2 separate regions of the Homo sapiens genome follow, and region 1 is linked to region 2. A link means that fine-mapping ties the variant in region 2 to the expression of a gene that starts in the linked region. Tissue or cell type: blood mononuclear cells. Region 2 holds a variant in brackets; the other region holds the start of a gene. All regions are shown on one strand. Distances are from middle to middle. Region 1 holds the start of DDAH1 (dimethylarginine dimethylaminohydrolase 1). Region 2 has its middle 55 kb from the start of CCN1.

Region 1 (2,914 bases), 61 kb before region 2:
ACAGACAAAATAGAAAAAAAATTCTTAAATCTCCAGAAATGAAAGAAACCACTAGCTTCTTGCAATGCCACTGGATGCCAATAGCAACGGAGTCTTGAGCCTGGGCTCTTAACTGGCAATGAGAAGAATCCCAGGCCAGATGGCATTTTAAAATCCAATCTCACTCTATTTGTCTCTCCCCACTAACCTACATTGCACTTAAAGCAATCAGCCATTTCACAAGCTGCAGTATTTCAAAGTAGTTACAACCCTTGAGAACAGAAAAACTCTCTTAATTGCTGTGAGTTTAAAAATATAGAGAATAAAAATTATGGAATTTGTGAAACAACCATCTCTAATTAAACACGCTCGCTAGCACACACACCCAACACCGCACAGAGTACAGCTTTTCAAACCTAGCCCATTCATGCACACATTTAGCACAGCTCACCAACAAAACACTTTTCCTTCCATTCATTCACTTACTAGTCCCGTTCTTTGGGACTCACTCGCCACCACTGAAAACTAACTTGAGAAGCCCCAGGTCTGTGGGCACCGACACCCCGTTAATTCATCCAGCTTGTCCTGCTCCGAGCGCCAGGCAGGACTTGGGGGCTTCGGTGTCACGACTGGCGCTGCCCCCTGGAGGGACGCCCAGCCTCCACCCGCCCTACCGGAGCGGCACCCCTCGCGGCCCTCGCTCCCTGGGAAACACTCAGAGTTGCACTGTCGTCGCTGCCGTTTAATTTTCACAAATAAAAATGCCCGTGAGACGGAATCCCCCGCCCACCCACCTGCCCGAGACCGTACAACCACATTGAATCGGATCCTCCAGAAGGCTGCCGGCAGCCGGGAGGTGTGAACAATGAACTTCTCTCTGACTCTCTGACACACACACACACACACACACTCGCCCCCCGACGGGAAGTTGTGAACTACTAGCCCGAGGGCCAATGGCGCGACTCCCCAGGCAACACGGCGGCCGGCGGCGGGGGAGGGCCTGGCGCGCGCCCCGGCCGCGCCCCTCGAGTCGGCAGTTACCTCCTTCCTCCGGCTCGGCGCCCCGGGTCGGGTGATGAGGGCCGTCTCCTCGCACACCACGGCCACGTCCTCCACGAAGACGCAGTCCGGAAGGCTCTCGTCGGCCGGCAGCTCCACCACCTGCAGCCCCAGCTTGCTGCCCAGCACGCCCACGTAGAGCTGGTGCTGCCGTTCCGCGCGGGCGACGTCCACCTCCTCGCCCTTGGCGCTTCTCAGCGCGTGCTGGCCGAGCGACTCGGGTAGCGCCCGCACCACGGCGTGGGTGGCCCGGCCGAAGGCGGCGGGGTGGCCGAGCCCGGCCATGGCTTCGGGAGGCTTAGGGGCGGCGGCGGCGGCGGAGGCGGCCGGGTCCTGCCGCGGGCAGCGCGCGCTGAGCCTGCGAGCGCCCGTCGGCTCCTCTTGGCAGCCGCTGAATGTGGTGCAGAAGGAGCCCAGCTCGCGCCCGGAGCCCTGCCCGCGCGACTGAGCATGCCCAGAGCTCCGGGCGCCGGCCCGCGCGCATCCCGCGCGCCCACTCCGGCGCTCGCGGGTCTCGCGCCAGCCCAGGCGGGAGTTGTAGCGGCGAGCGCCGGGCGAGGAGTGGGGCCAGGAGAGGCGGCCGGGGAAGCAGCGAGGGCAAGAAGTATGCGGAGGCGGGGGACCTCGGCGAAAAGCCACCGCTACCCGGACCTGGCGGTACCTGTGTTCTGTCGCAGGTGCACACCTCCCATCGTCCCCAGCGCGGACTTGGAGAGCCGGCCTCGGTCTGGACAGAGCAGCTGGAGGGCTTCCTGGTCTTTACCTGAACAGTTTAAACCTTGCGTGCTTACAAAGTCTAGCCCACTTTTGAAGAGCTATAATGGTTTACAGATTCTTCATGTTGAGCTTAAATCCCACGGGTCCCAGTTCTGTTTTCTGGCCTTACCTAAAGTACAAGTTTTTCTTGTTTTGTGTGTGTTCGCGTGTGTGTGTGTTTTCACAAAACAGCATTTGCATATCTGAAAACAGTTCTAATTATCTATGCTGCCTAACACCATCCTCTACCCCCCACCCTAAACCCCCTCCAGTCCTGGAGCCCAAACCACTGAAAAGTAACTAGTGATTTGGTTTCCAAGTCCCTTCAACATTCTGGTCAGCTTCCTTTTGATACACACCAATTTGCTTGTATCCTTTTAAAATCATAGTATCCGGAAAATAAACAATTCTTCCTGTGTGGTCTGACCAGCACAGACTACAGCAGCACCCTTGTTCCAGATGCTGGGCCTCTATGAACACTGCCTAAGCCTGTATTCACTTTTTTGGTGGTCTAGGGCCAAGGCCCAGGCTACAGCCTTCTTGCCAGAACTCTGATCCCAGCTTTTAGGAAACTCTGGATTTCTAGGAGCAGGTCTCTCTGAGCATCCTAGAATGGTTGCCCCAACTGAGCCCAGAGATGTGATCTGCCTTCTCTCCCCTCCCACAAGGGTGGTGTGAATTTATAAATGAGCTTCAAAATTCTCAGCTTCACATTTGAGGAGTTTTTTTTGTTTTTTGTTGTTGTTTTGTTTTGACGGAGTTTCACTCTTGTTGCCCAGGCTGGAGTGCAGTGGCACGATCTCGGCTTACTTCAACTGCTGCCTCCCCAGTTCAAGCAATTCTCCTGCCTCAGCCTCCTGAGTAGCTGGGACTACAGGTGCACGCCACCACTCGCGGCTAATTTGTATTTTTAGCAGAGACAGGGTTTCACCATGTTGGCTAGGCTGGTCTCGAACTCCTGACCTCAGGTGATCCACCCGCCTCCACCTCCCAAAGTGCTGGGATTACAGGCATGAGCTACCACGCCCTGCCCAAATTTGAGGAGTCTCAAGGACAGCTCTGACACTGACATTGGGAAGTGGGACCAAAAGTAAAATAACAAACCTTTAAGACCGACTAG
Region 2 (2,914 bases):
CCTGGTTGTACAACAGAATAGGCCCAATGGCTTTCTCTAAAGATGTTTGGTATAAGCCTATCTTAAAGGAAATACTGTATCTGATAAAATGGGATTGTTTCTACTGAAGACTCATCTGGCTACAAAACAGAACTACTATCAACCTGAGAAAGAATCCAGCTGTTGCTTTAAAATTAACAACTTCCCATTACATCATCAAGCCTGATAATCATCTTGCCTGCAACTCCAATTCCATCTCACCCTTTAATACTCCTTCTTTCCCCTAGGTCACTGGGAAGCTTGCTTGTGGCACTCTCTGGGATCCTGTTTCCAGTTACTGGTTGCGTAATGTATTGATAAAGCAAAGCCAAATATGAGTAAGAAGAAAAGCCTAATTAGAAATGAAGCACGCAGTGTCCCAACAAGAAAAATGCCAGGGCTTCAAAAATAGGAAATCAGTGATGCATAGTTTCTTCTGTCACTGAAGAAATCATCCCAGTACTTAATAAGCCAGAAAATGGATTAAGCAGATGGGGGGAAGTTGTCAGCGGCAAAGAATGGGCACCTACGGAGAAACAGAATTATTTAGAATCAAAATGACTGACTGGCACACATTAAAGAATATCTGTTTGTGTCTTGAAATGAATGCTATAGAAAATATAGTAGGTATGAAATATAGAAAATATAGTAGGTATGAAAACAAATGCAAAATCGGCCACCAAGAGAGAACATCACAGGCTATGGGCTGATGTAGAAATGCTGGAGATGCTGACTTTTTTTTCTTTATCGAATTGACTATTTGAGTGAAGCAACCAAAATAATAACTTGGAGTAGAGTGTGGATGCAGCTTAATTCTAATAAACTTGCCCTTAAATATAAAGAAAACCTTTCTTTCATAAGAATCCACTCGTACAGCATATGTATCTACATATTCTTCTCTCCCTACACATATCTGAACATGTTTCTAGCTAGCTGACTGTTGACACTTAACTCAGTTGATAGGACATGTCCTCTGGCTCATAGGAGAAACAGCAAAGGTTCAGTACATTTAAGTCTTTGAAGATTATGGGAACAAAAACTCAGTTTTAAGTGTCAGGGAATTGCTGTATGATTTTTACCACATCACTTAACTTCTAAGTTTTCTAATTATTGTATTGTACAACTGAAAGAATGATATTCACACACACACACACACACACTCCATACCCTTGAACACTGAGAGACAATAGACTGATCAGGAGGCTCTTACATCTGCAAGAAACAAAACTGGAGACTAGCAGGACACATAGCTTCTGAGTGATGGCGTAACAAGTTGCTATTTATACCCCATCTTCCATTCACCAATGTGAACTAGGGGTCTATCCCTGCAAGAGAGTAATTTTAGAGAATGAGCTTCCGGGTGAGCTCACAG[G/C]TTAACACTGCTTGTATCACCATCTTGAGTCAGCAGTGGATAATGCTGTGCAGAATAAACTAATTTTAGTCCTCTGCGGTATCCTTGTAAACACTTCATAGTGATTCTTTAAAAAGTCAGTGGGAACTTGCTATCTCTGCTTCATTTCCTACTCCCAATAATTTGCTAGGGTTATTTTTAGGTAACTGTGTCTTACAGGATTTGTTTAGGTGAGCTCCTCTGTTTCAGAATGGCCATGTGAAAATTCTGCCACAGATTTTGAAGTCAGAAGGCTGTCTGGTTAAATGGATCCAGAAAAATTACTAACAGATATGGTGACAAAGGACATGGAAATGTAAGTGTCCTGTATGTGCTACAGGAAAAAGTGCTGCCCATCTTTCCCTCATTTCAGCAACACTTTCAGTGAGCCCCAGCTCATGGAAAGAGAGACGAGGAGAGAAAAAGGCTTATTCCTGAAGCTAATAGCTTTCCTTCTCTCTCTAATACTATATGTTTGCAGTGACAATGATCCCTCAGCTTCTGAATCATCTCCTCATTCTGTGATGTACCCCTGGGTTCTGAGTTTCATTTCTTTGGCAGTCAGTCACATGCTGAATATAGAGCACCTCTAATTTGTTCAGTGTCTCATGGATCACTGAGAAAGAATAGGGCCTTATGACAAACTCCACTGGTCAGAGCGCCCGGATCTAGGTGTGTGATCACAGCCTTTAACACTTGACCAGGAACTCATATTTCATGGAGTGAGAATTGTGAGACCTTGCACTAGGGTTTTGTGATTCTGAGAAAGATGCTGGGTTTGGCTGTATTTATCAAGGAATGTGGATACCAAGAGAAGGGGCTGAGTTGGGAAGAAGGGGGTAAAGAGAATTCTAGGCAAATTAAACCTCTCAGCAACGAGTATCCCATAGGCCAGAAAGAGTGTGAAGGGATTCAGTCATATGTGAAAGAAGTTCTGTGGTTTTTGTCTTGTCTTTCTTGAAAACCTCTGGCCCTGGAATGTTTGATATCGATTTTCCCTGGTCTAAAAAGAGAATTAGAGAATTTCAAATGAAGTGTATGTGACACAAAGTGAGAAGAGAAGGAGGGAGGGAGAAAAGAGAGGCAGAATCGGAAATGTTAATAGGAAAAAGGAAGAAAATGGTGTGTCCTGTAATTACTTATATAAGAAAGGCAGCTAATAAGTGTTCCAGGGTAGAACTTCTATTTCTTGAATTCATTAAAAGTAATTTTGAGACTCCTGGATTGGTGGCAGTGGAGGCAAGACTTTGCTAAGGAGAACTTTGTTTAAATGTCTCTTTCCAAAGCAAATACACATCATACCAAGATATACAACCTATGTGTAGCTTCACTGTGCTGCTGGAAACTCTGCCTCACTAGGTGATTCTTCTTTACTGAGGATCCTGCTGTCCTCATCTACCCCTTGAAAAGCGAGTTTGATGGACTCTGGGTGAGTAAAGCAAGTCTTTCAGAGGAGAGGAGAGGCAGCACCATTGGCTGTCTGCCAGCGAAAGGCTTGTGCAGCGG

What was found.
Region 1: it holds the start of DDAH1, and the variant in region 2 is fine-mapped to the expression of DDAH1 in blood mononuclear cells (TOPMed, PIP 0.98).

What each region holds. Positions count from the first base shown.
Region 1 is chr1:85,463,723-85,466,636 of GRCh38, forward strand. It overlaps DDAH1 (dimethylarginine dimethylaminohydrolase 1), which reads right to left and starts at 1,437. Exons shown (of 6, transcript NM_012137.4): 1 at 1,021-1,437. The coding sequence starts at 1,323. RefSeq lists silencers at 846-1,045, 1,286-1,695.
Region 2 is chr1:85,524,411-85,527,324 of GRCh38, forward strand. It overlaps a transcript of DDAH1 not described here. Among named protein-coding and RNA genes, the nearest start is that of CCN1, 55 kb to the right of the region's middle. The variant G/C (reference allele first, on the strand shown) is at 1,391.